Linked DNA regions of Homo sapiens. The protein of the gene in region 3 interacts with the protein of the main gene of each other region in a pairwise test. Each region holds a gene or a part of one and is shown on either strand. Other genes may lie near its edges.

Region 1 (2,280 bases), on a different chromosome or scaffold from region 3:
TGCCCACCTCAGCTTCCCAAAGTGCTGGGATTACAGGTGTGAGCCACTGACCTTGCAATAATTTTCAGTCAGTCTTTATACATTAAGACTACCTTGCTTCGTTTGAGACAGGGTCTTGCTCTGTCACCCAGGCTGGCGTGCAGTGTCACAATCATAGCTTATGGTGGCCTTGAACTCCTGGACACAAGTGATCCTCCTGCCTCAGCCTCTCAAAGCACTGGGATTACAGACGTGAGCCACCACACCTAGCAACACTACCTTTTGATATGTTGCAAATATTTTTTCTGAATTGGGCAGGAATCTTTTACACAATTTAATTCCTTACAAGTAGAGAAGTAAGAACATTAACTCTGGAGCTGGACTATTGGGTTCAAAACCTGACTGACAACTTTCTATAAAAAAGCTGACACTTTCAGCTATAAAACTCTGGCAAGTTATGTTATTTAACTGGTGTCTGTTACATGTCCACATATGAGAAAAACAGTAACCGCCTCCTGAGGTTTTTGTGAGGACCAAATAATTTTTATTCACATACATCTAGTTCATCTACCTAAAGTGTTCAGAACAATGTTCAGCACATATTAAGCTTGATATAACTGTTACCTATGATGATGACGATGATGATGATAATGATAACTGTACAGTCACTGTCTTTCTGAAGTTGTTTGGTGATCAAGAATGTGTTTAGAACTATCTCTTTATTAGACAAAGTCATAAACCAAAAATTTCCAACTTCCTGTACATGTTGAAAGCTTTAAATAAGGATCCTTGGATACAAAATATGGTCCACATGGCTGAAAATTAATTCTATGACACAATATTATTCTAAAGTCATCCTTATTTTGAAAGCCTAAAGATTTTCTTTTATGGCTATAAAAATACCACCAAGCTAGACATTTTAATTCTGTTGAGATATACAAATAGAATTACCACAGCAGCCTACACCTTCTATGATTTCTAAACACTTAAACATCAATGGTTTTGGGAAGATGCTGTTGTCCTTCAAAGTTCATTAAAAGTTCAGATGCCTTTTGTGAAAGCCCAACTTTTCTTCTACCTGCTAAATTGTCTTTTCAGAAGTCTTGCCGGATGTTTTCTTTGTTTGCCTCTCCATGTTGCTGCTTAATTTGATAGATTTCATTTTCTAGCTGAACAATAGTCCGTTCAATCTCATAATTCTTACTGACCAGGGATACCCAACTAGAATGGGGGGGAAGAAAAGAAAAAAATTACTCAATGTAAAACTTCTCTTAGAAGATTTTATTTTAAATGTATACACATGTTCACCCAGAGCTATAACACTAACCTTCACTTTTTTTTTTTTTTTGAGACGGAGTCTCGCTCTTGTTGCCCAGGCTGGAGAACAATGGCGCAACCTCAGCTCACTGCAACCTCCGCCTCCCGGGTTCAAGGGATTCTCCTGACTCAGCCTCCCGAGTAGCTGGATTACAGGCACACGCCACCACAGCTGGCTACTTTTTTGTATTTTTAGTAGAGATGGGGTTTCACCACGTTGGCCAGGCTGGTCTCAAACTCCTGACCCCAGGTGATCCACCCACCTCGGTCTCCTAATGTGCTGGGATTACAGGCATGAGCTACCATGCCTGGCCTAACCTTCACTTTCAACTTTCCATTAAAAAAAAATCAAGGCACAATTGTGGAAAAGTAGGTAAAGGGTACATGGAATCTCTCTGTATTCTTTTTTTTTTTTTTTTTTTTTTTTCCAGAGACAGGGTCTTGCTCTGTTGCCTAGGCTGAAATGCAGTGGTGTGATCACAGCTCACTAGCCTGGAACTCCTGAGCTCAAGCAATCCTCCAACCTCAGCCTCCTGAAGAGCTTAGACTACAGGTGCATGCCATCATGCCTGGCTCATTTAAAAGCATTTTTTTGTAGAGACAGGGTCTCGTTATGTTGCCCAGGCTGGCTTGAACTCCTGGCTTCAAGCAATCCTCCTACCTTGGCCTACCAAGGCACTAGGATTACAATGTGAGTCACCACACCTGGCTCTCTGTATTATTTCTTACAATTGCATGTGAATCTATAATTATCTAAAAATAAAAGTTTAATAAAAAAGCAAATTAGAAACAGATGAGAGAACTTGCAAACCAGAAGAAAGAGGAAAGAGTGATGAAGATAGTATTTAATCAACAAAAAGGAAAGAGGCAATAGTTTATTAAATTGAGGAAAAAGCGTGAAAGGGTACCAACGAGACTGGTAAGACGTACATGGAGACGGTGGAACAAGAATGACTTGAGTAATGAAGGGAGAAAGGGAATGGC
Region 2 (3,500 bases), on a different chromosome or scaffold from region 3:
GCCACTTTTCCCCTGCTAGTCCTCTGTTTGACTATGTCACATGCTGCTCTACCTTCCTTGTTACTAGAGATTACTTGAGACTCATTCTTCAAGGTCGGGGCCTTGGGAAATTATCCTTGTGAATGAGATAACCTGTTGGTAGGTGCTTTAACAGTGAAGTTCTGTAGCGCTGTGGTACCCTGCTGCTGTTCTCTGTGTGTGACTCTGCTTCTGCATTCGGGATGTGAAATCCCTGGCATAGGCCCAACCCTACCCATAGAGTGTAGCTATTAATGTCACCTCTCAAGGAACACATGTTTATTTCAACAGGTGTCTTTTGAAGAACATTTTCTTGAAATATTTAGCCCTCTCGTCCTGGCTCATTCCTGCATATTCTTTAGTTGTTAGCTTAGCTGCATTTTTACTGGGACATCTTCCTTGCTTTTCCACCTCTCAGCACTGTTCCTCCTGTGTGCTGTCAGAGGACTGTGTGTGTACTTCCGTTTCCTGGCTGGTAGTTGCCTTTTTACTTGTTTGTATCCCCACTGAAGACAGTATCTTGAGAGCTGGCACTGTCTTTCACCTCTATAGCCATCCTATGTAGCACACAGTTTTACACTGGCTAGGAACTCAGTAAATATTTTATGAATACATGTTTTAGTGTTAATGACAATTTCAAGTGCTATATTAGACCAGTTAGGTGTATTTTTTAAAAATTCCTTGCAAAGGCTTCACAAAGGCTTAGAGGCCATTTAAATATCTATATATAAAGGTACAATATGTAATATCTGTTTATCAATATATAAAAACAGATGTGTGTTTGTGTGTTTCAACGGGGAAATGAGGAATTGCTGGTAGAGCAAATGTAGGATGAGGAAATTGGAAGGAGCGAGGGCCAGGGTTAGAAATTTCCTTACTAGAGGTGTCCTGCGTATTTGACTCGAGCTTTCTAGCGGCAAATCAAGGTCAGTGAGGATTGTTGTTGTTTTTGGTAGGCAGGTTTTTTAGCACTCCTCAGTTTATATATATCTGAGAGGCTATCTCTTGTTACATAAAATTTTGGTGTTAAAGCTCACTGTTTTTCAGACTTCTGTCATCCTAGGACAGTCTTATTGTTAGTTGGGGAAGGTGTCACTGATGACGGTTTTCTAAAGCTACCTGTAGCGATGGTAGTATTATAAGGTGATAATAAGTGACAATTACTGTTAGTATTTTGAGACCACTGAAGCTTATGTATTTATTTGTCTCTGATTTTAGTTTACTACAGTCAGCATGTGCCAGGCACTGTGTTAGACACCTGAGAGTCTTCTTTAGCTTCAAGGTGCTTACTGAGTAGTAGGGGCAAACACATAAAAAAATATAATTTTATACAACATGATTTATAAATAAAGAAGATATATGCCTTGTACCTTAGGAGCCTCAGGGTTTGAGGAAGTTTTCCAAGAGGGTTATTCTTAGCCAGTAGAAAAAAAGTGAGGAAGATGTTCTGTCACGTCAGAGATGTGGTAGCCTGGAATGGCATGGTACCCATGGAGTGAGCAAAGATGGGAGGTGTGAAAGGCGTGGTATGTATCGGCATTCCAGCAGCACACTTACCAAGGGTTGAAAGCGTGTAGGGGAGCAGCGAGAGACATACTTGAAGACACTGCCAAGGTCGAAGAATGCTTGTTCTAGATACCATCTTAGGGATAATGAAAAAGTTCAGAAAGGGCTTTAAATGGCAGTAGCGTAGATGGATTCATAGGGGCAAGATTAGAAGCTGGGAGACCATGGATATTAGGCAAGAAATTATGAGTATTTGTTGGCAAGATACAGTGCTATTAATTGGAAAGAGTTATTTAGGAGATTAGCAAATAATTACACATTGGGTGACATGGTTGGGAGACAGCTCAGTGCAGAGATAAGAGAAAGAAGTATTGGTGAATTGCATGGTTTTGCCCCAGGCAACTGGGTGGACGGTGGAACTGTAAATTGAGAATGATTACAATAATGCTAACATTTAAGGGGTATTTAGTATGTTCCAAGCACTGTGCTGTATGCTTTACACAAAGTAACTTATTCCTCATAATAACCTGTGAAGTCGGTAAACTATTACCCCCATTTTATAGATGGGGAAGCTGAGACCTGGAGACAAAACGGAAGTCCCACTTAGCTAAGATTCTAAACCAGACATTCTGACTCCAGAACCCAGCGCATAGACTCTATATTACGGCAATATTATAGCCCATACCATTGTCAATAATAGTATGAAATTTGACATCTCCTAATCAACTTTATATCTCACACATATGGAGTGATGACAAATAATGCCTTAGGTCACCACATTAGTTGGAGAAATGTAGCATTAAATTACCGTCTCTTATAATAAATTACCATCAAATAATGAATTTGTGCCAAGTACAAGAGCACTGAATTTCCCAACAATAGATTTATAAATAACAATTGGAGGAAAGTTTAGAAGTAGGCAGTATTTTGAAAATTTGGCAGTTGCTTTTTATATTGCTTGTTTTACATTTTTAATACAAATGTAGGGGGAATTCTCAGCATCTTAGTACTTCTCTTCACATAGCTAACCTAGTGTCTTACAGTGGAAACGCATGTATTCCGTTGGAAACAGGAAGACAGGAAGTAGAGGCAGTGGATAAAGACAACCCTTTGAAGAATTTTTTTCTTTCTTTTTTTAATGGGAGCAGTGCACAAGTGCAGGGACTTGAGATGGGAGTACTGGCAGCGGAGCGGTGGGAGCGGTAGGGAAGCTCAGTACGTGAGGGGTGCAGCTGCAGAGAGTTGATCAGTGTGGTGTTGGAGCGTGTGCTTCCGTATTTTCAAGGAAATAAAAGAAATGAGGTTATGAGGCCTTCCCTTCCACTAGTCCTTTGGGACCGTTCTTGTCAAGAACCCTGGTGATGCCCATACTGCTAGACTCCCGGTCAGTTCACCATTCTCCTCCTCCTCCATTTGACAGTTCGTGATTCCCTCCTCTTTTCTGAAATGCTTTCTTCACTTGCTGGTGACCATTCTCTTTTCCCTTCTGCCTCACCGCCACTTCTTCTCAGCCTCATTTGCCTCTTGCCTCTTTATCTTCTGGACTTCAAGGTCCAGTGCACAGTAGATGGACTGCCTTTTTCTCTGTTTGCAGCCGCTCCCCAGGGGACCTCATGAAGCCCGGTGATTCTGAATGCCGTGGATCTGCCGAGGATTCCCAGATGCGTATTTCTCCTCCGTACTTCCCCACAGGACAGCAGGCTTGAATAGCTGATTGCCTATGCAGGACAACAGGCTTGAATAGCTGACTGCCTATGCATTCTCTTTGCTTGCCAGTTTTTTGGACATCAAACTTGACAGATCCAAGATTATTACTTTGATCTTCCCCACACCCCTCCCACCCCCGAGTCTACTATGGTCCCATCATAGTATTCTGAAAATCAGTGAATGGCCACTCTACCAGTTATTTCTACCAGTTTTTAGGTTCTAAACCTCAGGCATTCTGGACTCTTCTGTTCATTATCATATTTTGAAGG
Region 3 (3,500 bases):
TAAAGTAACATTTATTATAGACTAATAGAATTTTTTTAAATCTGATAAAATTCCTCCTTTAGAACAAAATTTAAAGATTTGGGTTACAGTTTTAAATCTACTAAAGCAAAAGGTCTAAAGTGCACTACCATTTCAAAAATGGTGTAATTTAAATGGTTTACTTAAAAAAATCCTGTTACTATGCATGAAATCAAAATAAAAATGAAAATGTTGATAATTCCAATTAAACTCTATTCTACACAGTTGATAATTTATCTAGACTCAGGTTTCGCTGCTTGAATTTTAAAGGTATTTTGGACCACATACACTCCAAGATTAAAGAGTTTAATTACATTTGCTCAGTTAGTTAGAAAAGATGTACTTACCTTGAACATTTCACTTAAATACATTTTTAAAACTAACGTTATTATGAGAGTCAAAATATTCAGGCTGGGTGCAGTGGCTCATGCCCATAAATCCTAGCACTTTGGGAGGCCGAGGAGGGAGGATTGCCTGAATTTAGTAGTTCGAGACCAGCCTGTGCAACATGGCAAAACCCTGTCTCTACTAAAAATACAAAAAATTAGCCAGGCATGGTGGCACGTGCCTGTAGTCCCAGCTATTCAGGAGGCTGAGGCATGAGAATCACTTGAACCCAGGAGGTGGAGGTTGCAGTGAACCAAGATCATGCCACTGAACTCCAGCCTGGGCGACAGAGCAAGAGTCTGTCTCAAAAAAAAAAAAAAAAAAGCGAGAGTCAGTCTAAATATTCAGTGATAAATCATTTTATTTACACTATTTAATAAACACAAACAGTTCCCTGTATTTAAAAGGGAGAAATGCTGTAAGCCGGTTTTTAATGCAGTGGCCAATAAACACTTAAAACAGATAAAATTAAGGTAGTACAAAATCATTTGCTACTAAGAATGCTTATTTTCTTTTTTTTTGAGATGGAATCTTGCTCTGTTGCCCAGGCTGGAGTGCAGTGGTGTGATCTCGGCTCACTGCAACCTCCACCTCCTGGGTTCAAGCGATTCTCCTGCCTCAGCCTCCCAGGTAGCTGGGACTACAAGTGCCCGCCACCATACCCGGCTAATTTTTGTAATTTTAGTAGAGACGGGGTTTCACCATATTGGCCAGGCTGGTCTTGAACTCCTGACTTTGTGATTCGCCCGCCTCGGCCTCCCAAAGTGCTGGGATTACAGGTGTAAGCCACTGTGCCTGACTAAGAATGCCTATTTTCTATAGTGCTATTTATAGTAGTAAAGAAATAGAAACCACCTAAATATCCAACAGAAAATGGGTTAAACAATGTACAACCATACAACAAACTCCTATGTTAACTATTAAAAATGATATTCAGGAAATATGTGTATTAACATAGAAAGTTATTCACAATGCACTGCTTAAAAAAAAGTTATAATAACAGACTACAGCGTACTTGGATCTTTTTTAAAAGAACAGGTATTATCAATCGTTATGTCTGGGTATGTTATGGATTATAGTAGTTTTCATCTTTTCACTTATATGTAATTTTAGCTATTTCTGTATCAAGCATGGACACATTTGTCCCCAGATGAACAAATACTTGGGTCTACATATCCAGGTAGATAAATGGGTAATGAAAACTTACCTTTACATTTTCATGAATAGACTGAAGTTGTGCCGCTAAAGCTACAAATGTTTGATAAATTTTCTGCATAGCCATTGACAAATCTATAAAAGAAAATTACATTATCACCCAAATATATACATATATATAGCACAATCCATTTTATTTTTCTATTTGAGTCCAATTTTTGGCACAGTTAACGTGTAGGAGAAAAAAACTCTATCAACGTTCTCATGGCCAGAGAACACACAGAGTAGCAGACTGAATGTCTACAAAAGAAATCTGGGGGGAAGGCCCTAAGATTTCTGTCCTTGTTACCACAGTAACAATTCATATAATAAAGCATATTATATTTATAGGGAATAAAGGAGTAGTAAATGACTTTTAAGGAAATTTTCTTAAAGGGGCTACCAGTAGTTATCCAAAATACCTATTATATAACCACATCTATCTCCTACAAACAAAAGTTCAAAAAAAATTACCACAGTAAGCATGTTACCTTGAGGGGTTATATGTGAATTATTTGCTTGAGTGGCAAGATGGTTTTCTAGTTCTTCAATCTGCTGCCTGTACTGCTGAAGCTGTACCTCAAATTGCTGAACCAAGATTCTGAAGTAGCTTTAAAAAACATTTAAAAAGTCAGATCAAATATTTTTTTAATTTGGAGTGACAAATCCAAATTAAGGAATATTCTGCAATCATTTAATAGTCTTCAAAAGTATCAAGGTTATCCAAGGAAAGGAAGGACTGAATAACTGTGACTGGAAGATATTAAGGAGAAATTACAAATGCACTGTGAATCCCAAATAGGATGCTGAAACAGAAGTACACTAGTGGAAAAACTGGTTGAATTTCAGTAAGTTTAGTAGTTTAGTTAATAATATTGTAACAATTTTAGTTTCCTGTTCTTGGTAATTATACTATAGTTATAAGTTAACATTAGGGGAAGCAAGGGAAGCGATATAAATAAATTCTCTGTACTACTATTTTGGAAGTTTTCTGTAAGGTTAAAATAAATTTAAAATAAAGTAGAAACGTCTACCAACCAGATTTCAGAATTAAGAATTTATAGTCATTTTATCAATGAAATTTATAATCTGAGAACACCATAGTATACTACAGAAAGCACATGTAATTATTGCTACTTTTCTAATAAATTTACCCACAGAGAGTGCTAGACAGATAAAAAAAAAAAAAGAAGGTATCTTGAATAGTATACAGAGGAATCTGAATGTCTTTCAGTAAACAATGGGCAACCATGAATGCATTTTGCAAAATTAGCTCTGATGGCAGTATTAAGTACAAGACAGAGGGATAAAATAGTAGAGGAAGTCCAGTGAGGAAGCACATCTCATGCCAACCTGAGTAAGACGAATATCATGGGCATTATGAATTTCCTGATTTTGAGAACTGTTAAGTATGAGAATATCCTTATTTTTAAGAAATATCCACTGAAGTACTTTAGCATAGTGAACATTATTTCTGCAAATAACCCAAACTGTTTGGGGGAGAAATGTATATACACACATAGAATGTGAGGAACAAAAATATGGTAAAAATGTTAATATGTAGGAAATTGGAATGAAAGGCATACAGGAATTTTTAGTTCTCATCTTGAAACTTTTCTGTAGACCAAAATTATAATAAAAAACTAAAAGAATAAAATAAGTAAGGGGCCAGGCGTGGTGGCTCACATCTGTAATCCCAGCACTTTAGGAGTCTGAGGCGGGAGAATCACTTTAGCCTAGGACCAGCCTAGGCAACACTGTGAAATGGCATCTCTACAAGTTAATTAATTAATTGTGAGGGACCAGGAATCAAACAGACCTCCACCACTCAACTCACTTTTGCATACCTCAGTCTCTTTATCGCTAAAACTGGAATAACAACAGCTACAGAGATCTTGTGA
Region 4 (2,599 bases), on a different chromosome or scaffold from region 3:
TAAATTTTATAAAGTAATATGTGTACATAAGAGACAAATAGTTCCACAAGGCTTACAGTGAAAAACTGCAGTCCTCTATCCCACCATCCCAACCCTGGGGTCTCACTCTCCAAAAAGAAATGCTTTGAGCACTTGAGCTGTCTTCTGGTACTTACCTCCTCATTGCTACAAAACATGCTCATATTACTATTTCCTCATTTTTTTCCATTACAGACATTTTCTCTAGGCTTCCTAATATGGAGATAAGGAATTAACCTCCTCCTATCCTCTTCTATACTTACATTGCAATTTCTCATTATAGCAGCAGGTTTTAGAAATAATTGTACCTACATAAACAATTTTGCAACTGAGGATCTTAGTACATTATTATTATATATTTTCTTGTACAACTTTTTTTTTTCTGGAATAATTACATCTTTTTGTCTGTTCACTTGGTTTCCCAGGAATCCACCAATACCAGAGCCTCAAATTCTCTGATAGGACTCTATTATGCCTCTCAGTATCATTATGTACATGGAGTGCTATTTTTCATTGAGTGTTTTTTTTTTCTTTTTGAGAAAGCATTTCCCTCTGTCACCCAGGCTGGAGTGCAACGGCATGATCACAGATCACTAGCCTCAATCTGCTGAGCTCACTTCAGCCCTGCAAGTAGCTGGGACTATAGGCACACACCACCACACCTGGCTAATTTTTAATTTTTTTGTAGAAATGGGGTCTTGAGATGTTGGCCAGATGTTTTTTTTTTTTTAAATGATTTGTTCTCTATTATTTTCTCTTTCTGGAACTTCTAATAGTTTGAATTTTTAACGATTATACTTTCTTATATTTTCATTTTTTTTTGTTCTAACTTCTAGAGATTACCTTTGTTTTATTTTCCAGTCTTTCAATTAAAATTTTAATTTTGGTTATCATGTTTACAATTTCCAAATACAGTAATTTCCTGTTTGCATAGCATTCTGTTCTTGTTTCATAGTTATAATTGTTTCTTACCTCTGAGAATTTTATGTTATTTAAATTTTTTTTTCTGTTTCCTGCATTATCTCTATTTCCTTCAAATTCCCTTTAATTTTCTGCTTTTTCATTTCATGCTAGAGGCTTTCTTTTAATGTCTGGTAACTTAGAGTAGTCCATTCATATTTAAAAATGAAGTGCTAACAAGTGAGTTGGAAGCACTATGTGTATGTGGGCAGGGATGGTCAACTGGTGAGCCTCACTCTGAGAGACTTGGCCACTTCACTGGGGTCCTCTAAATGTCAGAAATTATAGATCCTTTCTCTCGGGCTGGTCAGCTTCCTCAGGAAAGAACTATCTATCTTTTTCTGTGAGCAGTAGGGTGATATAAGCCTCGAAGCCCCAAGAGGGAAGATGGAGCAGGAGGTAAATCTTCTCATTAAGCCATGTAGATTTTCACTTACTTCCCTGTTTTCAGTAAGATGCCGCATTCCCACACTCAGACTTAGTGGCCCCCATGCTAGAGACTCTTACTTAACCTTGCCAGAGAGTAAAACTCCTGTTTTCTGCAGGGGAGGGCAGGGCAGGCCTCCCAGCTTTGAGGGCTGAGGGAGATTTGAAGGCTGAAGACTTCATATGGTCTTTAAACATGTTTTCAGTTCAACCCAGAATTAAAGAGCTACCTGGTACCCCAATGTCTGAGCTATTCTGGAGTTCTAAGGCACAAATATTCTTGCTGGCTTCCCTACTTCAGCAACGTGAAAATCACAGAAACAAAGGCAGTTACCTCTCACCTATCACAATCCACTTTCCAAAATGTGGTTGATATCTCTTTTCTGCTATACTATTGTTTCTGTGGTTTGTATCTTCAGTTTTTTTTTTTTTTCCTGTAGGGTCATTTTAACAAGATTTTTGGAGGAAATGGATGGAGATAAACATGTGTGTTCATGCTACCATCTTTAATTAGAGATGTATCAATAGCGATCTTTAAAAAGCTTTCAATTTCTATATGGCTATTCATGAATTTTAAGAGAACAAATATTTAAGATTTGGGTAGGTTTAAGAAATGATATGACTCCTCAAAACAGCATTAATTATATCCTCATTTAAGAAATATATTAAACTTACTTTTGAGGCCAATAGGTTAAACCTAAAGAGTTTAGCCAAGATTCAGGAATAAAGGCCCACACGAGGTAAAGTACTGTAGAAAAGAAAAAGAAAAAAAAGAGGAAGAGAAGTCAGTAAGACATACATCTAATCTATCAATCTATTAAGATTCAGATAAAACAGAAAAGCTCTTTTGAAGTGTCCCTGATTAACTCAGAAATGATTTTTTCCTCCTTTCAGTTCTTCTAGCTCGTTTGCACAATTCTTATAATACTTATAATTACTGTATTAGTCTTTTTTTTTAATATCTTAACTCACATTATATTTTAAGCAATTCAAGGATACAAATCATGGCTTAGCAATTGTTGTAATCCTTATTACCTAGCAGTTTGCTTTAGGTACAGTAAGTGTTCAATACTTCATCCCCACAAGGTTGAAGTAATTATAGACATTTAATTGCTCAAAGGGAAATTTACCTACCCTAGTTCTCATCCACCACATACTGAGCTTCTGCCCTATCTCCCAGAGTACAATGTTATTT
Region 5 (3,500 bases), on a different chromosome or scaffold from region 3:
TTTATACTATTCTTTCTAGCCCAATTAAAAGGCCTTTACATTTTCCACATTCCCAGATTTTAGCTTCCTTGAGTGATATTCCACATGAAAATGGGGAGGTATGTCACAATGGCAGACTTTAAAAATTATTACATAAACTTGAAAAGCACTTATGAATCTGTTATTTAGAATTTAGAACACGTTATTCCACAGGGAGGAAACCATAAACCTGAATTGGTACTTACACTGCACATATATTAATCTACAGTGTTATAATTAAACACAACATGCATATGCATAACTGAGTGCCTTCAGCATTTTCATATAAGATAGAACATTTACCTTGTAATTACTCCTAATGTACCTTAATGACACTGGATAAAAAAACTAAAACTTCAAATTCCACATCTGCTACTTGTATAAGACTACAAGGTAACCTCCTCCTGGAGGTTAAGTAGTGGAAAGAGAATTACCAAACTCTGTCACTTAACTTACCCCAGCAAGAATAGAATATTTTCAGCCCTCTAATCTTCCACATTAAGCTCTCTATTTTAATTTGTAAATTAGAAAATTAGAGATAAACCGTATATGTATCTTAACCCTGTTGGGAGTACAGAGCTCTTTGGCAGACATTTATATTTTTTCTAATCAGTTCCTCAATGACGATTACAATATGAGCTTCATATTCTCACTTGGGAAATTTTCATTAATTTGTTTTCATATAATTTGAAAACAAATACTTAGCTGTCTTCTTAGGAATAAACTGCCAACATTCAGAACAATGTATAATCTCCAACTCTAATCAAATTTTGAATCACAGATTCGTAAAACTGATAGCATCTGGTACAAGTGCCTCATTCTTAACAAAAAATTAAATGAATTAAGCCATATTCCAAAGCTAGTCAGTAGAACTAGGCCTAGAACCTAGATTCTGATTCTCTTTTCAGAGCTTTTGCTGCCATCCTTTACTACCAATTTAACCAAACCATATAACCTGGCCATTATTTATCAGCAATAAGACATTGATGAAATCAAAAGTTATACATACATCTCATCTGTGAAACGGAGCTAAAGGTACCTGCCTTTGAGGGGCCTGGGTGATTAAACTTGTTTGTATGACAAAGTACTCTGTAAAATGAAAAGCGCCATATACAATTATACATCATTTCTAACTACTTGGGGAAAGTAAAATGTGGCCATAAACCAATCACAAAGCTGTTTATCTAAGACTAGCCTCAACCTATGATTAAACAACTGCGGCAAAAGTCAAGTGACTGCACATTAGTGCTTCAGTTAGTAATAAAGGTATTAACAGATAAAAGTTATTACAGAAAAAATGTATTCTGACTAAACCAAAAGATGATTTAATTGTATATCTACATTCTTTATTCTTAAGAGCTGCCTTTTTAGCTTAACAAACGTGAATTAAAAGGTAATAAACAATGCCAAAAATATGGCATCTTCCTCTTAAGGAGACAATACACAAAATATTGGGAGGGCTACTGAGAAATTACTGACAAGGCTCTTCCACTCTAAAAGAAAAACAGTGAATGAAATGGCTCTTTGCTGTCTGGCCACACTTTAACGTTGTGGTGATAACTCAGAAAAGAAGTCCAGGGATATTTCTCAATACCCAGAGACAAAAAGCAGGGCTCATGACTATAGGGATACATGTAATAATACCATCTTAAATAGTTAGAGCATTTTAAACATTTTACCTTTCCTAAAGATTACATCTCATGAGATCTTTGTAATACTTTTATTAAGTAAATAAGGAATAGTCTGATACTCTAAGCTGAAAATCATCAAAATTAAAAACAAGCACAATATTATGTAGCATTTTCCTTATCTTTTATAATGAGGTCCATTTATGTTTATAAAACAAAAAGGTTCCATCAACTCAAATTAACTAGTTTATTTCTAGATTTTGATAACGATATTTCAAAGACAAAAAATCAACCCAAAGGTAAATAATGAACATCCTCTGGCCACTGCATACTACTGAGTTGGTTATCAAAAAAACAGTTTATCTATTTTGTAATTAATTTCCTGGCCATAAATTGCAAACTTTTTGATAATGTCCTTATGAATTTTTAAAATTAAATTTCAGTGTATGTATTTCCATACATATCCCTTTACCTCAGGGGGTAGTCTCTTTCTGTATCTTATTTTTTTCTTTTCTCACTTAGGGTCAACTTTCAGTTGACCTTCAGTATTCTCTGAAGTGTCTGCTCACAATTTAAAACTCTTATAAAAATTTTTTTTGGAGATAAGTAGTCCAGCTTGTTTTAAATTACTATCATTTTAAATCTGTGACACAAGGATAATTATGTAAAATGAAGATTTTTAAGAGATATAAATCTTTTAAGGAAAATAACTAAAAACAAATAGAAATCTTAACTAAAAATCTTATTTATACTAATAAAAATGCATTTAAATTGAGGCATTAAATAAAATCAGGTTTTACACCTTAAATCAAGGTAAATGACTTGTCAACTAATACATCACTTTAAATTTCACCTTAAAAATCAATCCAGTTAATGAACTGCATATCAAGAAGTATACATTTTATTGTTTATAAATTTAAAAAATTAACCTAGTTAAGAACAAATTGTTATTACAAAGCTATGTTTCTTTAAATAAATGGCAAATTTATCATTTTGGTAAATTTACTACCATTATAATACTTAATGTAGTTAGGATATCTTTCCACAATAACTTTAGGTAACTTTACTGCCATTTAATCATCCACAATCAGACTTCAAAATCAAGCTATTAAAATGAATGGGAATATGAACAACTTTTCTAATATGTATACATTCTCAAAAGAATCACTTATGTGATTGTTGTTTTAAGGAAAACTCAAATACTAAAACTTTGAGGCTTCAATTCCAGTCATTTTGGGCATTTCAACCTGAAAATAACAGATTAGAAATTAACTCTTAAATTTAGTACAAGCACAAGATACAATTTTGGTTTTTCAAAATGTCCATCAGAAAATAAGTATTTAACTTATATATATACATAGAAATATTTATTGAAATCTTACAAATTTCTATAAAGCCCCAAGAGGTCTCATATAAATAACACTGAGAATCTTCATTTTTATATCTAGACATACCATTATGAATATGGAAATGAAACTGCCATTTATCATAGAAGAATAGGAGCTGTTTTTGTAACTATTTATTATCCTTGCCATCAAATTTAGACCTAAGAGGCACTAAACATTGAAAGACAGGTACTAAGAACAAGTCAGAGATATACAATCTTTTACTTTAGAGGAACAGAGTCTCATGCTCCATTATTCATTTCTAACTAGACAGAATTCTGTGATTAGCCCTTAATTCAAGATGTTACAGATCAGCAAAACAGAATTAAGTCTGATTTTTGTTAAAAAAAAAAAATGCAGTCATTTTAGATACCAAAACTTCATCTAAAATGTGGAAAGGTGAATTTAGGTAACAGTGTCAACAATGTAAATTATAAACATTAGTCAGCTTATTTAAGACCAATCAATG
Region 6 (4,257 bases), on a different chromosome or scaffold from region 3:
ATTAATCAGCCCCCCTTTCCTCCCGGGGACAAGGGCTTCCTCCCCCGTGAGGGCACATGCTGTCGGATGGGGCCCCAGAGCACAAGCACTGATTCTTGCCACCCCCACCCTGGGGGCATGGATGCATCCCCTCCTGGCCAGTCAACTGAGGCTCCCACCCCCACCTATGATGATGGCCCACATGCCTGTTCCCCTCCACGAGAACACAGCAGACCCCTTAGGGCTCTCCTGCCCCACTCTGCCAGGCACCCCTCAAACCCCTTTCTTTAGGAGAGCATTCGCTCCCATTGACGCCCAGCACATCTTCCTGCTCCCTTCCACGCCCCCACTGGGGCTCTTCCTCTCCCTCCATTGCATGCCCTGTCCCCCTACATATAGAGCACCCCGGAAGCACACCTCCCCTTTGCTCCCTGGCTTGCTTACCCAACAGCCCTCCCCCGAAGCCTGGTTGTGGCAAGGGATTTGGGGAACATTTGGGGAAGCAAAGTGGCCACAGATATGCAAGCTGGCCAGGGTGCTGTCTGTCCCAGACATATGAATGACTGAGATTGGGGTTGGGGGCAAAATGAGGGTGAGGGCAGCCAGCCTCCCAGAGGGGGCAGGGGCATGGTGGGTGTTGAAGTCTGGAGCAAAGCTCCAGGGAAGCTGAGAATCTTGAAGTCACAGTTGTCCCCTGGTCTGTCTAGCCTGCCCTCCTCTGCCCCCCTCCCTCCGTCATTCAAACAAGTGGCTCTCTCAAGGAGTTTCTGGAAGCTGCTGTGAGTCGGGTAGTGGGATCAGGTGGTGGCTGGGTGCTGGAGTCAGGAGTCTCAGAGGCCAGGAGGTGGGGGGATAGAGTTGGCTGACCCTTCATGGGGTGTGGGCCAGGAAAGTGGCAAAGAATGAGCTGAGGACCCTGGGCACGGCACCCTTCCCTGGGTGGCCAGGAAGTGGGGAGATCTGGGGACCCAGTGAGCGGCTAGGGTGCAGCAGGAGTTTGGGGGATAGCCCCAGTCTTGGGATCTCTGTCCTGGGCTGGGGACTGCCCCCTCCCCTGGCCTGGCTCCTGACGCCCGTGCTGCCGGTGAAACGCTGTTGACATGTCCTGAATTATTAAGCGTGGGGAGGGCTCCGGAGCACATGCTGAGCGGAGCGGCTGGGGCTGCGCGGCGTGGCGGAGCAGCGCTCGCTCCCTCGCTCACTCGCTCGCTCGCAGGGACACACGCAGGGGCTGACAGCTGTGCTGGTGCTGATAAGGGAAGCCACAAGGAGACGATCGAGGAGAGAGACAAGCGGCAGCAGAGGCAGCAGCGGCAGAGGCAGCACCAGGGCTGCGGAGCTGCTGGGAGTGGGAGTGACTCCCCCACCTCGGGCCCCCACCCTGTCCCTGTCCTCTTCCCGCTTGCCCTGAGTTTAGAAGAGCAGCCGCTGCCACCACTGCCACTCGGGAGGGCACCAGGGCTGCTGGCTAGGGAGGGACAGGGCAGGGAGGCTCTGGCCAGTCCCAGCAGCCGGGGACAGATGCCGATCGAGATTGTGTGCAAAATCAAATTTGCTGAGGAGGATGCGAAACCCAAGGAGAAGGAGGCAGGGGATGAGCAGAGCCTCCTCGGGGCTGTTGCCCCTGGAGCAGCCCCCCGAGACCTGGCCACCTTTGCCAGCACCAGCACCCTGCATGGACTGGGCCGGGCCTGTGGCCCAGGCCCCCACGGACTGCGCAGAACCCTGTGGGCACTGGCCCTACTCACCTCGCTGGCTGCCTTCCTGTACCAGGCGGCTGGCCTGGCCCGGGGCTACCTGACCCGGCCTCACCTGGTGGCAATGGACCCCGCTGCCCCAGCCCCAGTGGCGGGCTTCCCGGCTGTCACCCTCTGCAATATCAACCGCTTCCGGCATTCGGCACTCAGCGATGCCGACATCTTCCACCTGGCCAATCTGACAGGGCTGCCCCCCAAAGACCGGGATGGGCACCGTGCGGCTGGCCTGCGCTACCCAGAGCCTGACATGGTAGACATCCTCAACCGCACTGGCCACCAGCTCGCCGACATGCTTAAGAGCTGCAACTTCAGTGGGCATCACTGCTCCGCCAGCAACTTCTCTGTGGTGAGTTCTGCCAGCTGGGCTGCCTGGCCTTGGATGGCCGGAGGCTGGGGAGTGGGGAGGAGTGGTGGCAGTGGTGTACAGGGGCATCCTCAACAGGGCTTCCCTTCATTCCACCACCAGAGGCTGGCCTCGTGTTTCCCCAAGCCTGGCGTCTCCCTCTGGCTTCCCAGCCATGGAGCAGTGGCCGCTCATAGGGGCTTACCCTGGGGCGCCTGCTGCTCCTCTTCTTGGTTTTGCTGCTGCTGCAGTGCCCAGGTCTGGGAGTTGGGGTGGGGGTTCCTAGGCATGGGCCCAGGTGTCCTGGAGCTGGCTGGCTTGCAGGGAACGCACGCACCATCCCAAGGCCAGACCAACTGACTCTCACTTTTCTCTTGCTCCCTTTTTCTTCTGAGGCTACTGGATTCTTCCCACCAAACGAAGGAGATAGGGAGGGGAGGTTTGGGGGGCTCCATCTAGGGAAGGACCCCGGGTGGCCTCCTGGGGAGCTGGCCTGGTGGGCAGGCTGGAGAGACCCGGTCTTCAGGACACTGGGTGCCAGTGTCTCTTCTGGATCTCTGTGTGTCTCTCACATGCCTGCCTCACAGACTCCCTCACACATCCCTCTTTCATTCTGCCCTCCAGCCCTCCTGGGGTCCAGTCCCCCTCTGTCTCCTGTTCTAGCGGCTCCCATGCCCAGCTCTGGCTCTTACACTGGGAATCACTGGTTCACTCTTATGTGCATAACTCACCCTCACTGCTGCCCCAGCACGGGTGCATGCACACATGCACACGCACACACGCACACGCACTGCTGGGGGACACAGTTTCCTGCACACTCCCTCTCTCACTCACTGTCCCTGTCACTACACTCACATGCACACCTGCACACCCACACCCAGAGAGCTACTCATCTCCATGTCTAGCTCCCAGCTCTCGCTTAGCTGCCAAGGACAGGGTCCCACTGTGGATGCCATCCCTTCTCATGACACCCCCACCCCCATCTATCCCAACCGCTGCTCCCCATTTGGAGACTGCTGGCGCCATCTGTCACCTACGTGTGAGCACAAACACAAGCACCCTCTCCGGGAGAGGGGTGTGAGCTTGGGCTGCTCTGCCATGCACGCCTCCCACAGTCAGGTATGTGAGGGGGTGGGCGTGTCTTGTACACTGCCTGTCTGTCAGGGCTCCATTCACCCATAGTCACAGGGTATCTAGTATTCATGGCGCTCGAGATGCTTGTCCCTAGTCCACAGTTTGCTCCCAGCATTGTGTGTGCATGCGTGTATGTTTCATCCTCGTTGCCACTGCCCAGTGCATATGCAAATGTTTGGCGTCAACATGGTGCCCACTCCAGCCCAGCCTCCAGCAGCCAGCCCCAGTGATAGGGACCCCCGCCAGGTTCTCACTCACCCGCTGCCTCAGGATCACCAGGAAACATGCTCCAGCCAACGAGGTTCCTGGCCCCCACCATGCCTGCAGTGTCTGGGGCCTCCCGCCATTGGGCAGGGGAGTTAGGTAGAAATAGAGGGACAGGAGCAGGAGCATTGTGCAGGGAGAAGAGTCGGGGGCATTGGCCTGTTGTCCGGCTGTACACCCCCTTTCCTAGGGAAAAGCACTGCTCCCCAAAGCAAGGGTTGGTAGAGTCCCCGAGGAGGAGGTGGGATATGGAGGGTGAGTGTGGCCTTTGGGATCCATAGGGCTCTGCTGTCCTCAATCCTCACCACTCCGTATTGGGAGCTGGGCAGAGCTCAGTCTTAGCAGGTGCTGTTGGGACAGAAATCAATGGGATCTTTGTGTCCCCGAGCGGGAGTTGGGGGTGGGCAGGAAAGGGGAAGGGTGATGAGACCTCAGTGAGAGGAAAGGAGAGGAAGAGCTGGAGGGGGTGAGGAAGTAAGGGGAGGGAGGCAGAGGGTTCTGCTTGGTCTCCAGGCTAGGAGGCGGTGCCTGGAGGATACAGGAACGGGGATCCTCTGATCAAGGCTGGTGAGTCCCCGGAATCCTGGGGATGGCCTGGAGGAGTGTGGGTGGATTTCCCACAGGCCCTCTGGTACCCTGGGGCTGGAGAAAGGAGGATGGTAGAAGTCCGTGGGCTGAGGTTCTGGCCCTGGTGCAGGACAGTGGGGGTAGAGGGCATAGCTAGCATTGGGGGACAGGAATTCCCCTTTGGGATTTCCATTTCCCCTGTCTCCAGCCCAG
Region 7 (3,500 bases), on a different chromosome or scaffold from region 3:
ATTTTAACTTGAGCCTATCATTTATTTATCATTTAAGTACTTTTTTTTTTAAACCATTGTTGCCTTTCTTTCAGTTAATCTATCTTGTATATTCTGCTCAGGAAATAAAACACTAATGGATTCAGATTTTCTTTGGAAAGACAAGAGTTTGTATAACTTTATGGAGAATCTCAGCATTAGAAAAGTTATTAATTTCATTTTGTAATTTTTGTTATAATCTCAAAGATTGGTTTCAGCGTTTTTATTTCATAGTGATGTTTTCAAGTCTCTACAACTGAAAATGAACTCCTAAGCTTTTTAATAGTCTCTATAGTTGTTAGGTGGTTATGAAATTATATTTTCCTGGGAGAAAAAAAAACCTTTGATTTAAGTCCTAGAGTTTTTTCAGAGTCTTTATTATACCTGAAGGGGAAAAAACAGTATTAACTCTAAATATAGTTAAAGAATTATATGTATATAATAATAGATCACTCCTGATAATTTATATTTGCCAGATACTGATATTAAAATAACAGGAAAATTCTGCTATCTACAATGTAATGGTGCTAACTAAAGTTTTATGTGTTTCTTCATTTTTCTAACATATTTATTGACTCTCTTGGCAAGTACGAATATAGTGGCCAACAAGAGAGAGGTTTCTGGTCTCAAAGAGCATATATTTTAGTGAGGGAGGCAGATGATAAATGAAACAAGTAGGATAGTGAGAAATAGTGATAAATTCTCTGAAGAAATAAAACAGGATAATGTGATAGGGAATGATGGAATTATTTCTGAGGGCTCTGTTCTGTTCCATTGGTCTATATCTCTGTTTTGGTACCAGTACCATGCTGTTTTGGTTACTGTAGCCTTGTAGTATAGTTTGAAGTCAGGTAGCGTGATGCCTCCAGCTTTGTTCTCTTGGCTTAGGATTGACTTGGCAATGTGGGCTCTTTTTTGGTTCCTTATGAACTTTAAAGTAGTTTTTTCCAATTCTGTGAAGAAAGTCATTTCTGTGAAGAAAGTCATTCCTGATGGGAATGGCATTGAATCTATAAATTACCTTGGGCAGTATGGCCATTTTCACAATATTGATTCTTCCTATCCATGAGCATGGAATGTTCTTCCATTTGTTTGTATCCTCTTTTATTTCGTTGAGCAGTCGTTTGTAGTTCTCCTTGAAGAGGCCCTTCATATCCCTTGTAAGTTGGATTCCTAGGTATTTTATTCTCATTGAAGCAATTGTGAATGGGAGTTCACTCATGATTTGGCTCTCTGTTCGTCTGTTGTTGGTGTATAAGAATGCTTGTGATTTTTGCACATTGATTTTGTATCCTGAGACTTTGCTGAAGTTGCTTATCAGCTTAAGGAGATTTTGGGCTGAGACGATGGGGTTTTCTAGATATACAATCACGTCATCTGCAAACAGGGACAATTTGACTTCCTCTTTTCCTAATTGAATACCCTTTATTTCTTTCTCCTGCCTGATTTCCCTGGCCAGAACTTCCAACACTATGTTGAATAGGAGTGGTGAGAGAGGGCATCCCTGTCTTGTGCCAGTTTTCAAAGGGAATGCTTCCGGTTTTTGTCCATTCAGTATGATATTGGCTGTGGGTTTGTCATAAATAGCTCTTACTATTTTGAGATATGCCCCATCAGTACCTAATTTATTGAGAGTTTTTAGCATGAAGTGCTGTTGAATTTTGTCCAAGGCCTTTTCTGCATCTATTGAGATAATCATGTGGTTTTTGTCTTTGGTTCTGTTTATATGCTGGATTACACTTACTGATTTGCGTATGTTGAACCAGCCTTGCATCCCAGGGATGAAGCCCACTTGATCATGGTGGATGAGCTTTCTGATGTGCTGCTGCATTTGGTTTGCCAGTATTTTATTGAGGATTTTTGCATCGATGTTCATCAGGATATTGGGAATGTTGGAGAGGGTAGTAACAACATTAAATATGGTGGTCAGGAAACATCTCTAGGAGGAATTGACATTTGAGCTGAAATCTGAATGACATTGAAATTAGAGCAATTGTAAAGACACGGGTAAGTTTAAAGAACAGAATGAAGGCTTGTGTAGTTGAGTTTGAGAGAGCGGGAGAGTGGAAGAAGAGTTTGAAGGAGGAAGAGACCAGACCTTGGAGAATCTTGCAGACTTTGGAAGCCATTGGAAAGTTTTCTCTTTTTATTCCTAAATATATCATATTTATGATCTTATATCAAATGTCGAGATATTTTATATTTATGATTTATATCAAATGTAGAGATATTTTATATATTTACTTGCCTAAATAGAGTCAAGAAATTCGAATTGCTTAACGATTTTTTTGTTTGTTTGTTTTTGAGACCGAGTCTCACTCTGTCACCCGGGCTGGAGTGCAGTGGCGTGATCTCAGCTCACTACAACCTCCGCCTCCCGGGTTCAATCAATTCTCCTGCCTCAGCCTCCTGAGTAGCTGGGATTACAGGCATGCACCACCACCACGCCTGGGTAATTTTTGTATTTTTAGTAGAGACAAGGTTTCACCATGTTGGCCAGTTTGGTCTCAAACTCCTGACCTTAGGTGATCCAACAGCCTCGGCCTCCCAAAGTGCTGGGATTACAGGCGTGAGCCACCATGCCTGGCCAAATTGCTTAACTGTTAATGTTCTGTTAAATGTCTGGAATTGTTTTCAAAACCAAAATGTATGGCAGTTACTTGTGAAAATGTCACACATCTTTTAAAATTTTTTAGGAAGCATTTTTGGGAGAAGACCTGAATTTGACCCTCAGATGGTCAAATTTTCTTATTAGGAATTCTAATTTTCTTTTTCTTTTTCTTTTTTTTTTGAGACAGGCTCTCACTGCCGTCCAGGCTAGAGTCTCATGGCGCAATCACAGCATCCTGCAGCCTTGACCTCCTGGACTCAGGTGATCCTCTCACCTCAGCCTCCTGAGTAGCTAGTATTACAGGCATGCACCACACACCCAGCTAGGTTTTTGTATTTTTTGTAGAGACAGGGATTTGCCATGTTGCCCAGGCTGGTCTCAAACTTCTGGGCTTAAATGATCTTCTTGCCTTGGCCTCCTGAAATGCTGGGATTACAGGCATGAGTCTTTGTCACCAGCCAGAATTCTATTTTCTGTACTAAAGAGATACTAAAAAGATACTTTTGATGGCATTCAGATTCCCTCTATTTGACATTGACTACATAAAGTAAAGCCTGTAAACTTCCTGCCCGTTCATCATTACCAAGACAAACCTTTATTGATGGGAAGGGAAGTTCACAGAAGAAATCGAGCAGTGACTTACACAATAGTAACACCTAAGAGCAGCCTAAATATGCTTGAAATAATGTGGATGCCACACAGATATCTCTAATACACTTAGGTAGTTTGGGCAGAAGGAGAAAAATAAAAACATCATAGAAGTCTTTTCAGTGTTGGGATGCAAGGAAGAAGGAAGAGTGGCAGGAATTTTTTAGATACTGATTAATTATTGATGCTGGGAGAGGTCATAGATTGAAGTGTATGTGTTTAA

What was found.
Region 1: the proteins of NUP58 (region 3) and BCAS2 interact in binary tests that used the Homo sapiens proteins (3 or more experiments, as listed by UniProt).
Region 2: the proteins of NUP58 (region 3) and STAM interact in binary tests that used the Homo sapiens proteins (3 or more experiments, as listed by UniProt).
Region 4: the proteins of NUP58 (region 3) and PIGP interact in binary tests that used the Homo sapiens proteins (3 or more experiments, as listed by UniProt).
Region 5: the proteins of NUP58 (region 3) and ARHGAP29 interact in binary tests that used the Homo sapiens proteins (3 or more experiments, as listed by UniProt).
Region 6: the proteins of NUP58 (region 3) and ASIC4 interact in binary tests that used the Homo sapiens proteins (3 or more experiments, as listed by UniProt).
Region 7: the proteins of NUP58 (region 3) and AKAP9 interact in binary tests that used the Homo sapiens proteins (3 or more experiments, as listed by UniProt).

Annotation. Positions count from the first base shown.
Region 1 is NC_000001.11:114,567,057-114,569,336, forward strand, and holds the end of BCAS2 (pre-mRNA-splicing factor SPF27), read right to left. Parts: intron 1,201-2,280; coding exon 1,074-1,200; 3' UTR 501-1,073; downstream 1-500. UniProt on the Homo sapiens protein: Required for pre-mRNA splicing as component of the activated spliceosome. Component of the PRP19-CDC5L complex that forms an integral part of the spliceosome and is required for activating pre-mRNA splicing.
Region 2 is NC_000010.11:17,710,151-17,713,650, forward strand, and holds part of STAM (signal transducing adapter molecule 1), read left to right. Parts: intron 1-3,118; coding exon of another isoform or gene 3,119-3,230; exon of another isoform or gene 3,231-3,500. UniProt on the Homo sapiens protein: Involved in intracellular signal transduction mediated by cytokines and growth factors. Upon IL-2 and GM-CSL stimulation, it plays a role in signaling leading to DNA synthesis and MYC induction. May also play a role in T-cell development.
Region 3 is NC_000013.11:25,325,625-25,329,124, reverse strand, and holds part of NUP58 (nucleoporin p58/p45), read right to left. Parts: intron 2,210-3,500; coding exon 2,091-2,209; intron 1,696-2,090; coding exon 1,613-1,695; intron 1-1,612. UniProt on the Homo sapiens protein: Component of the nuclear pore complex, a complex required for the trafficking across the nuclear membrane.
Region 4 is NC_000021.9:37,067,473-37,070,071, forward strand, and holds part of PIGP (phosphatidylinositol N-acetylglucosaminyltransferase subunit P), read right to left. Parts: intron 2,153-2,599; coding exon 2,080-2,152; intron 1-2,079. UniProt on the Homo sapiens protein: Part of the glycosylphosphatidylinositol-N-acetylglucosaminyltransferase (GPI-GnT) complex that catalyzes the transfer of N-acetylglucosamine from UDP-N-acetylglucosamine to phosphatidylinositol and participates in the first step of GPI biosynthesis.
Region 5 is NC_000001.11:94,227,585-94,231,084, forward strand, and holds part of ARHGAP29 (rho GTPase-activating protein 29), read right to left. Parts: intron 1-3,500. UniProt on the Homo sapiens protein: GTPase activator for the Rho-type GTPases by converting them to an inactive GDP-bound state. Has strong activity toward RHOA, and weaker activity toward RAC1 and CDC42. May act as a specific effector of RAP2A to regulate Rho.
Region 6 is NC_000002.12:219,513,225-219,517,481, forward strand, and holds the start of ASIC4 (acid-sensing ion channel 4), read left to right. Parts: upstream 1-1,500; coding exon 1,501-2,082; intron 2,083-3,471; exon of another isoform or gene 3,472-3,862; intron 3,863-3,980; exon of another isoform or gene 3,981-4,044; intron 4,045-4,257. UniProt on the Homo sapiens protein: Does not exhibit measurable stand-alone pH-gated sodium channel activity but may form pH-gated heterotrimeric sodium channels. Its activity could also depend on alternative gating mechanisms.
Region 7 is NC_000007.14:92,003,362-92,006,861, forward strand, and holds part of AKAP9 (A-kinase anchor protein 9), read left to right. Parts: intron 1-3,500. UniProt on the Homo sapiens protein: Scaffolding protein that assembles several protein kinases and phosphatases on the centrosome and Golgi apparatus. Required to maintain the integrity of the Golgi apparatus. Required for microtubule nucleation at the cis-side of the Golgi apparatus.